2 separate regions of the Homo sapiens genome follow, and region 1 is linked to region 2. The links come from fine-mapping of genetic effects on gene expression. Tissue or cell type: tibial nerve. Region 2 holds a variant in brackets; the other region holds the start of a gene. All regions are shown on one strand. Distances are between the middles of the regions.

Region 1 (5,372 bases), 34 kb after region 2:
ACAAAATCCCCAAGCGTCTCCTCCCTGCTTCTCCACAAACAAAAATTATTTTTTGACATTTTCTTTAAGGTTTTATGAGTGAGTAAACATTTTCATTTCCACAGAACTATTTGATCTCAACCACAGAGTTTCAGTACTTGTTTTTGATCACACAAGTACGGTGGATTGGTTTTGTGTTGGCCAGGGGGAGGGAGGGCCAGAAAGAGAGTTAAAATTACCGGATCCCTTTTATCTTCCATTCTGAGACCTTACATTTGCCAACTCCTTTTTCCCTGTACATTTTTTTAAAGTATGAAATCTGAGAACCTCAAAGGCTCTCACTGCTCAAAGATCAGCCTTTTCACAGTCCACTGAGGACTCACTGGAAATGTTACAGAAATACGGCCTGCCAACTTGGGTGCCTCTGGGTAAAATCACCCACAGTTGCTGTTCATGTGAAATCTCCTAAATGTAAGCACACTTCTTCAGCCCTCGCTGCTCATCTCGCCTCCTCCTCTCTGTCACCCACCTCTGTCATGTCCAGTTCATGTTGGCCCACAGCCCTCACACTTCCATTCCTCAAAATTCCTCTTGGCCTGCCTCTGATCCCCTCACACACTCTGCAGCTCCCATGGCTAAGACTCACCAGGCAAAATGACTCCAGAAACTTAACCTGGAGTACGGTGCAAGAAAGCCACTGACCCAGGGGGGCTGAGCCAGGGCACCAGGACAATCTTGCTCCTTCCACTGCACTCTTGCCTTCCCAGGCCCCACCCATCCCAAACAGGAAAGCAAGATCTCTAGACCCTTGGAGCAGAAGCATTTGAGTCCTGCGAAGGGCTGTTGGAAGAATGCTGGGTTCAGCAGCAGGGAACAGAGAGATTTAGGAATTCTGGTTCACTTACCCGCCTCCATGCCCACGTCAGGCAGTGGCAAGGCCACCCCTGCTACACAAATGCTCATCAACTACACAGCCTGGGGGAAGTCACCGAACCACTTTGTGCCTCAGTTTCCTCATCTGTAAAGTGGACATAAGTGTCCCCTGAATACGTATGGCAAACCGTCAACGTGTGCCCAAATAGAGTGAGCAGATGTAAGGAGTTATTGTGCTATTAGCACAGTGGCTCCCAGACTCACAGAGCCTACTGCTCAGAGAGACGCCGAGGGGAAAGCTTAAATTACTTTATATACTCAGAAGCATTAGTCACTTCGACAGAGTATTTCAACTTCCCTCCTGAGCATCTACTCAGTTGTTTCAAAGACTGAAGCCTCACCTAGGTTCCTTATAGACTTCCATCATCTTCAGCATCTCAAAGCAGATCCAAAGTCCACTATTCCTACGCTGGAGGTTTATTATTATTTGATTATTTCCAGGAAAACTTCGATTTCCATTTTGCTTGTAATAAATCCAAACGTGGAGAACGACAAACTGCTTAGACTCACACAGGCCCTGGAGTTGACTGCGCCCAGGGGCGAAGAGACCGCGGAATGGCCGAGGCAGGAGGCCGGCCAGGGCACCGGTCCCCGTCAGGTGCCCCCGTGCCCGGGCTGTATGGGAGGGGAAGGGCCACGGGCTCCGCGCCCAGGCCAGGGTGCCCCTGCTGGGTGTCCGCGTGCCCCGGCGGAGGGCGCGGGTCAGGTGGCCCCAGACTCCCGGGCGCAGAGTGTGCGCTCGCTCCGGCTTGGGGAGGCGGGGGCCGGCCCGCCGGGAGGCTCCGAGCCCGGTTACGCCAGCCGCGGCCCCGCAGTCCCTCCGGAGGGGCGCGCGGAGAGCGCGCGGCGCGGGCTCACTCACCCCATCTCCGGCGCTGCTCCGGCGGCCGCTCCGACGGGGCCTCTCGCGCTCGCTCTCCGCCCGCTCGGCAGCCGCTCCCCGCGCGGCACATGCGGCGGCCCGTGCGCGCCCGGCTCAGCCCCGGCGCCGCTCCATTCCGCGGGGCTGCGCGGCTGCCACTGCTGCCACTGCCGCCACCGCCGCCAGGCGCGGGCGGGCGGGGGCTGGGCGGCCGCGCTGGGGCGGTGCCCGCCCCGCCCTCCCCAGCCGCTACCCCCGCCCGGCTCCTTACGTAACCTCGTGGCCCCCGGGCCGCGGCAGCGAGCCAAGAGGCGGGGGGCGCAGCACTGTGTGCACCGTCCCCCGCGCAGCCGCGCAGTCGCCGCTTTTCTCCCGGGCCACCCAGTCCTCGGTGCCGGCCCCGCGTTGGCGCGCCCCCGCCCCACGCCGACCCGGGGCCCTGGCGCAGTGCCATCAACATCCTGCCTGATGGACTTAAAGTCCCATTCACACCTGGCGGGGACTTTAGGGCTACCTTTACTTTGCAGATAAGGGAACCGAGGCCTGGGGAGGGTAAGTGATTTGCCCAAGGTCACACATTCAGATTAGAGTTCGTTCGGGTCTCCAGAGTCTGAGATGGGCATAGCTGTGCTCCTCCTTAAAGCCCACCTTCATCTTCCTGCCAGTTGCCCGGCCGAGTGGCCTTAAGGTACCCGCCACCGTGAAATTTCGGAAGCCAGCCTGGCAGAGAAGAGCCTACAGGCCGCGGCAGATGCTCTGGGCTCTTTCCTGGATAAAAATGAGATGAGGGCTCCCACTTGAAGGGGCAGTTTTAAGGCGGCTTCATCAAGCTTGGTTTTATCCTTAGAGCGAGGGGAATTAGGATGGCAAAAGTAGAACTTGAAGAAGAGCAGGCTCTCTTCGTCGCCTTTCTACCTATCAGGTCCTGAGTTTCTACCAAAGGCTGGCACTGGGACTAACCTAACCTTCATCCCCCGGGACTTCCACGGGATCATCTTCTGCTGGGAACACACCGCCCACATAAGCCTGGCATCTCAGGACAGTAAAAAAGTCAAGGGACAGGTCGGGCGCGGTGGCTCACGCCTGTAATCCCAGCACTTTGGGAGGCCGAGGCGGGCGAATCACGAGGTCTGGAGATCGAGGCCATCCTGGCTAACACGGTGAAACCCCGTCTCTACTAAAAATACACACACACAAAAAAAATTAGCCGGGCGTGGAGACAGGCGCCTGTAGTCCCAGCTACTCCGGAGGCTGACGCACAAGAATCGCGTGAACCTGGAAGGCGGATCTTGTAGTGAGCCGAGATCGCACCACTGCACTCCAGCCTGGGCAACAGAGCGAGACTCCGTCTCAAAAAATAAATAAATTAATTAATTAAATACATAAATAGCCGGGTGTGGTGGCGTGCTCCTGTAGTCCCAGCTACTCCCAGCTACTCGGGAGGCTTGATGCAGGAGAATCGCTTGAACCCAGGAGGCAGGGGTTGCAGCGAGCCGAGATCATGCCACTGCACTCTAGCCTGGTGAAAAGAGCCAGACTGTCTCAAAAAAATAAATAAATAAATACAAAATAAGTTTGTAAAAAATAAAATAATCTTGGGAGTTTCCAAATCCTCCATGCATAGTAATCAGCAATATCAGGAAAGTGAGCTTGTAGAACACTGAACAAGTCATTTATCAGGTAATACCTGAGGATTCTGAAGTGTTCGAATAACTTCAAAGGCAAGCCACTGAAATCAGAGTTTTTCATTTTTATTTTATTTTTATTATTTTTTTTTTGAGACGGAGTCTCACTCTGCTCACCCAGGCTAGAGTGCAGTGGCAGTGGCGTGATCTCGGCTCACTGCAACCCCCACCTCCCAGATTCAAGCGATTCTACTGCCTCAGCCTCCCCAGTAGCTGCGACTGCAGGCGCATGCCACCACGCCCAGTTTTTTTTTTTTTTTGTATTTTTAGTAGAGACAGGGTTTCACCATGTTTCGATCTCCTGACCTCGTGATCCACCCGCCTCGGCCTCCCAAAGGGCTGGGACTACAGGCATGAGCCACCGTGCCTGGCCGAGTTTTTCATTTTTTTAAACTACAATCCACAGTAAGAAATATATTTTACACTACAACCTGCAACCTGGTACATACTTCAGCACATACATACTATGTCTATAGGTATATCGATATAAAATAGAAACAAAAAGTTATATAAAACAATGTTTATCCTCTCACTTGCCAGGCAGGCATTCAGACATCATTCTGTTTTGTTGTTGTTGTTGTTGAGACAGAGTGTTGCTCTGTCACCAGGCTGGAGTGCAGTGGCATGATCTCAGGGCACCACAACCTCCGCCTCCCAGGTTCAAGCGATTCTCCTGCCTCAGCCTCCCAAGTAGCTGGGACTACAGGCGCGCACCACCACCCCAGCTAATTTTTGTATTTTTAGTAGAGACAGGATTTCACCATGTTGGCCAGGATGGTCTCCATCTCTTGACCTCGTGATCGGCCCACCTCAGCCTCCCAAAGTGCTGGGATTACAGGCGTGTGCCACCGTGCCCGGCCCATTCTGTTCTATTTTTAAAAGCAGTACTGCTCATAACCTACTAAATTGATTTCAAAACCTATAATCTACGTATTTTTACTTTCTTTTTCTTTTTCTTTTTTTTTTTTTTTTGAGACGGAGTCTCACTCTGTTGCCCAGGCTGGAGTGCAGTGGCGCAATCTTGGCTCACTGCAACTTCTGCCTCCTGGGTTCATGCAATTCTCCTGCCTCAGCCTCCCGAGTAGCTGGGGCTACAAGCGCATGCCACCACACCTGGCTACTTTTTTGTAGTTTTAGTAGAGATGGGGTTTCACCATGTTAGCTAGGATGGTCTCGATCTCCAGACCTTGTGATCCGCCTGCCTCGGCCTCCCAAAGTGCTGGGATTATAGGCGTGAGCCACCATGCCCGGCCTGTATTTTTACTTTCAACAGCAAAATTAGGCTCACCATGTACATGCATAATGTTGTTATTAGTGTGCTCAGATTTCTGGTATGGCTGGTCCAGGGACTTCAAACATTTTTTTTTCTAACCATAAAAGGTCAGTTCTTTCAACTGCATATGAAACAAATGTATTATTAAAGCCATTAATTAAAGGGATAACTGTCGGGTATTATGCAGCTATTACATTATATTTGTGAAGCCTATATAGTAACATAGAAATATATTTATTCTTTCAATAAATGTTGATCACCTGCTGTGTATCTGGTACTGTGTTGGGCATAAAGTGCTCAGCAAAACAGACGTCCTTCTGTCATAGGACTATAAGATTGTGTGAATGGTATTAATCAAATAATCACACAAATATATAAGCTACGATCTGTGTGAATAGGAGACCTAATTTAGGTTGAGGAGGATGGTCAGGAATGGCCTGTTGAAGAGACATTTAAAAAGAGGCCTGATGGCTGGGTGTGGTGGCTCATGACTGTAGTCCCAGCACTTTGGGAGGCCAAGGCAGGCAGATCACTTGAGGCCAGGAGTTCAAGACCAGCCTGGCCAACATGGCAAAACCCCATCTTTACTAAAAATACAAAACCTAGCCAGGCATGGTGGTACATGCCTGTAATCCCAGCT
Region 2 (5,372 bases):
GGTTAAGTACTCTCAAGAGCTTTAGATGGCAAAGGGACAAAGATGACACAAGCTGGATGGGGACTTGGCACTAAGAGAGCTGAGCCCTGAGTTGCCAGCTGCTTGGCCCAAAGTATGGGCTGCTCTGGAAAGAGCCAGAGCCCTCATTTTTTTTTTTTTGAGACAGAGTCTCACTCTGTTGCCAGACTGGAGTGCAATGGCGCGATCTCGGGTTACTGCAACCTCCACCCCCTGGGTTCAAGTGATTATCCTGCCTCAACCTCCCGAGTAGCTGGGATTACAGGCGCACGCCACAATGTCCAGCTAATTTTTGTATTTTTAGTAGAGACGGGGTTTCACCATGTTGGCCAGGATGGCCTCGATCTCTTGACCTTGTGATTCGCCTGCCTCGGCCTCTCAAAGTGCTGGGATTACAGGTGTGAGCCACCGTGCCCGGCCCAGAGCCCTCATTTTACAATTTTTGTTTTTTTCTAACTCACAGTTAACCCACTGAACAAGAAGTACCCATTTCTGATTTGCATTTTCCCTATAAATCCCATTATTGAAAGAGTTTGCCCTTCTAGGCAGAATTTATGAAAAAGTAATTTATTTCCTCATTTCTTCATTGCTCTAAGAAGTCACATATAACCGCCAAACGGTTTTCTAATCTGCAGGATATCACCAAGGTGGCCTCAAGAATTGATAGGATCCCAGCCACAAGTGAAGGTATGTTACCAGCTAGAGCAGGCTGAGAGCAGAACAGCTGCCCTTTATCTTGGGGAAATAGCACAGGCACCTGTCCCTCCTCTCCCAGGGCCCCAGGGGGAACTGCTGGAACAGCCCTTTCCTTCGCACCCAAGGACATGGCACATGATACCAAAGACACATGCAGGAAGGTGCAAGCGGGGAAGATCCGCCCCCGTGGGGACAGCAGCAAACCCCAGTGTATGTGAGAGGGAGAAGTTACGTGTTTAGAATATTATGAGATTGAGGCATTTAAGGGAAGTCTTCAAGGAAGGAAAACTAGTTAAGAAGAATAAACCCATTGTTCTACAGCCATGGTGAGCTTGCTGTAAACACTTGGAAACAGTGTGCCTCCCACCAGCCTTTCATATGCTGCAGGCCTATGCACACAGTAGGCCCAAAATACTTGCTAAACTAGATTATTTGGCTTTAAAATTATATCACATGTGCCCAGCAAGGCAAAACTCATCTCTATTATTTCCCACAATGTCAAGGGCAAAAGTGAAATCAACCTCATCTGGTCTAAGACAGGTGTGGGGGCCCCAAATCCTTATAGTTTAGGGGCGAGACTGCTGCTGAGACTAGAGCCCTGCAGGACTGGGTCAGCCTGCTCCTCAGCTGGACCATCTACTCCGAGGAGCAGCTCGGAGCAGGATCATGGAGAACACCTGGGCAGCAAATGGCCCAGAGCTAACTAGGGACTAAAAGCAGGCAGCATTGCCCGAGCCGCATTACACACTCATCAAAGTCCCAGTGTCTACTCTCATAAGAATCCTTCAAAAATCTAACGCTTGACCCTAGGGACACAGAGATATATAGACGCCATCCCTCCCGGACAGCACTCACTGGCAGTGACTCAGGATGAGTACTGGGTGCAGAAACTCCAGCACCTGAGGGTACAGATACTCAGGCCACGGTGCTCTGGGGTTCAGGTGTCACAGCCAGAGGTCTTTGCCAGGGATCCTCTAGAGCAGGCAGATGCTATTCTCAGGACAGTGTGATCATGTTGGGACAGTGCCCACGGGACAGGATACCACAGTGCTCAGATTTCTCTCCTACCAGGGCCTCATTTCCGTGTCCTACTTGAGTATCAGGCCCCACCTCAGCAGGTGAGGCTGGGTGGTCTGGTGGGGGCTCATTCCCTTAGTTCTTCTCCATGGGGTTTCCCCTCCACACTCACCTCCACAGCTTTGAGGACATGTCTATGTGATGACACCTGAATGTGTACCTCCAGCCCAGGTGTCTCTCCTGAACCCCATGCTTGCACCTTACCTCCCTGCTGCTGTTCTCCCTGCACCCCTATTTCAGTGACTCACACCACTGGATCTGTCACTATGGCAGAAACCTGGGAATCTCACACCCAGCACACAGCAGGAACATCTCCCTCGCTGTCCTCTCCTCAGCAGCCCAGGCTGTCAGCCTCCTACCTAGTAGTGTCCTCCAATGGGCCACAGGTGTGTTGAACTCGGCCCCGTAAATGGCTGTGCAGGGCACAACTCTGAGTGTCAATCATGAAAGACACGCAGACTCATTACATCAACTGCCTGGCAGATCACAGATTTCCAGAAGGTGTCTTAAAGAAGCGTTTTTTTCTAATTTGTACAAAGATGTCACTTGTCCTGGGAAGAAGTAGCCTGCTGAGAAGGGGATCTCAACCCTCAGGGTGCAGAGCAGGGCCTGGGCCACAGGAGTCCCAGGGCTGGGCACTGTTTTGTCCATTTGCCTAGGTGCTGTAAACATATTTTCCATGTGTCCGTGACACTAAAAAGATTGGGAAACACTGACCTAGATTACACCAATAGCCCCTCTGTGCTTCTGGATCTCTTCTGTTGGCAAAAACAAGCTCAGGTCTCTCCCATTTATACCAGACATGTAAGTTAACATGCCTGCTCTACCCAACACCTCTCTCTGCCTTCAGGCCTTACTCAGGGAAGTCACAACGGGTTGCTCGTCCATACAGGATCAAGGACAGGTTGGCCTGTTGGCCAGACGCCCAGCACAAACAGCTCAGCCCAGTGAGGGAGAGTCATTAGGTAAGCCATCAACCACCTCCCTGCAGAATTCAGTCATCATTGTTGCATGTGGAGTCCCTTCTCATACATAATCATACATTACTAGTATAATAATCCAATTATCCAACTCTCCCAACAAAGAGGCTTCACAGATCAAACTGACCTCAGGTTTGAGCATTATTTACAAAAAGGTCAACCAGAAATTAATTGGAACGTCCAGTACCAGGAAGAATCAAGTCAATAAATTAACACAATAGAGTACTATGTAACCCTTTTAAAAAAGAACATTCTTATGACTATATAAATATTGTTCCCTGCAGAGGCAAAAAATGTGCCAGGATTATAGTTCTTTCTGTACAGTTCCAATGTCAACAGCAGAGTGCTACTCACAGGAAAACATTCCTAGTATCAAGGTCAGAGAGAAGCTTCTCCTTTCTAGCACTCTCCCAGTTGTTCAAAAGCAGGCGGTATCTTTCGTGCACTTCATATTTGAAACATGACATGCTTGTGATAATTTTTAATTTTTGTGATGTTTTCCTATTGCCTTCTCTATC[G/A]AGGAAAGAAACACAGCCCGTCTTCCCATAACCCTAGTATATTCCAGCTTGTTCACTCTGTCCATTGTCTGGAATCTGCTCCAGTCTCTGTCCTCAAGATATTATTCTTGGAGCCAGTAACTTCCACCTGTAATTTGGAGTGAATGCTTCTGAGGCCCATTCATAGCCATCTGTCCAGAAGTTCTTTTCACCAGACTCCCAGGAGCCATCAATTCTTTTTGCCCACTTCCCCACATCATGACCTCCTTCATAGTCTTCGCCATTGTTTTGCTGTTGTAGATCCTCAAGATGAGCGGGAGGTCAACTTTAAGTCCTTGCACATCAGGAATGGCCTTTACTTTCCCCCTTATACTTGATTGGTTTTGGCTGGATGTATCCTAGGGCTGCTGTACCAAATTCCCACAAACTTGGGGGCTTACATGACAGGAATTTATTTTCTCACAGCTCTGGAGGGCAGAAATCCGCAGTCAGTTGACTGGGCTGAAACCAAGGTGTCGCCAGGGCCATGCTGCCTCCAGAGGCTCTAGGGTTGGAAGCTCTAAGGAAGCATCCATTGCCCCACCTTTCCCAGCTTCTAGAGCTGCGTTCCTTGGCTCATGGCCTCCTCCTCCATCTTCAAAGCCTGCAGCAAAGCATCTTCAAAGCTCTCTGCAGAGATCCTCACATCCTCTTCTCTATTCTGTGTGTAGTAAAATCTCCCTCTGCTACTCTCTTCAGAACACTTGTGATTACACTGGGCCCTGGATAATGCAGGATAACCTCCCCATCTCAAAGTCCTTAACTTATCATATCTGCAAAGACCCTTTAACATATACGGTAACGTAGGTTCAGAAATGAGCATCTGATATATCTATGGGAGACATTTTTTAGCCTACCACTCTGGGGGTAAAACAATCTTTTTTTTTTTTTTTTTTAAGACACAAAGTCTTACTATGTTGCCCAGGCTAGATTCAAATTCTTGGGCTCAAGCAATCCTCTTACTTCAGCCTCCCTAGGAGCTGCGACTACCACAGCACTCAGCTTAAAACAATTGTTTTAAATGGCTTAAAAAAAATGATTTTCAGACGGGCATGGTGGCTCACACTTGTAATCCCAGCACTTTGGGAGGCCAAGGTGGGCAGATCACCTGAGGTCAGGAGTTCAAGACCAGGCTGGCCAACATGGGGAAACCCCATCTCTACAAAAAATACAAAAAATTAACCAGGTGTGGTGGCACACACCTGTAATCCCAGCTAGCTGAGGCACGAAAATCACTTGAACCCGGGAGGCGGAGGTTGCAGTGAGCCAAGATCGCACCACTGCACTCCAGCCTGGAGGACAGAGTGAGACTCCATCTCAAAAAAAACAGGTTTTCCCTCATGTGCCACTGTGCAGGCCTTGCTCCACTCTTCTCCTGTCATCTTATCTGATGAGAAGCTGCTTCTGCTGGCTCCTCCTCCCCTTCCGGACTCCTTGGTGCTGGAGCACGTCACACTTTCCCCCTTTCCCCACGCTGATCTGAGCTGATACCATGCTTCCAAATACCATCCGCCTACCCTGGATGCACGCCAGACCAAGGAAGACTTTATTCTAGAATGCCAACATCCACACTCCCAGTCTTGGCTCTGCCAGTGGAGTCCACTCGTCCCCCATCCCGCTGATATGCACAGTGTCCCTGTGGCAGGAGTATCACCTAGTATCACCTGAGACCTCCAATTAAAGCCCCAGCTTCAGCACCACTTCTCACTCCTGCCCTTGCTGGACCTGCAGACTCAGTTCAGAGGGTCTCTGGGGTTGTGCAGGGCAGACTGGTCAGCTACCCCAACTCCCTGTGGCCCCTCCACTCAGACTCTGGGCTCTGGTCTCCTCTGTGCTATATTTCTGACATTGCCTTTCCTCTACTAGCTTTCTATGGTCCAGAAATTTATTGTAATCTCTCAACTACTGATAATTCCCTCCCATTCATTTTGCTGTCCTGGGATTATACTTTTCATAATCTCCTTATTATCATTTTAATGGGTTCTGGGGAGAGAAGGTATAAATAAGCACAAGTGCTGAATCCTCCATCTTGAACATTAAGTTAATCTCATTCATTTTTCAGTTA

Direction of the effects. Positions count from the first base shown, and alleles are read on the strand shown. Sizes are in standard deviations (SD) of each study's normalised expression.
For the expression in tibial nerve of the gene that starts at base 1,964 in region 1, allele G in region 2 goes with a lower level than allele A (moderate effect, 0.60 SD a copy in GTEx).

What was found. PIP is the estimated chance that this variant, and not a neighbour inherited with it, causes the effect. A credible set is the group of variants that fine-mapping cannot tell apart.
Region 1: it holds the start of HOMER2, and the variant in region 2 is the best candidate, but not a certain one, in a credible set for the expression of HOMER2 in tibial nerve (GTEx, PIP 0.90).

What each region holds. Positions count from the first base shown.
Region 1 is chr15:82,950,757-82,956,128 of GRCh38, forward strand. HOMER2 (homer scaffold protein 2) reads right to left here and starts at 1,964. Exons shown (of 9, transcript NM_004839.4): 1 at 1,775-1,964. The coding sequence starts at 1,779. RefSeq lists an enhancer at 1,214-1,714.
Region 2 is chr15:82,916,662-82,922,033 of GRCh38, forward strand. The region is part of intron 1 of HOMER2 (homer scaffold protein 2); the gene reads right to left. LOC105370928 (a long non-coding RNA gene) reads left to right here. Exons shown (of 5, transcript XR_007064741.1): 3 at 654-705; 4 at 2,642-2,756. Among named protein-coding and RNA genes, the nearest start is that of HOMER2, 33 kb to the right of the region's middle. The variant G/A (reference allele first, on the strand shown) is at 3,290.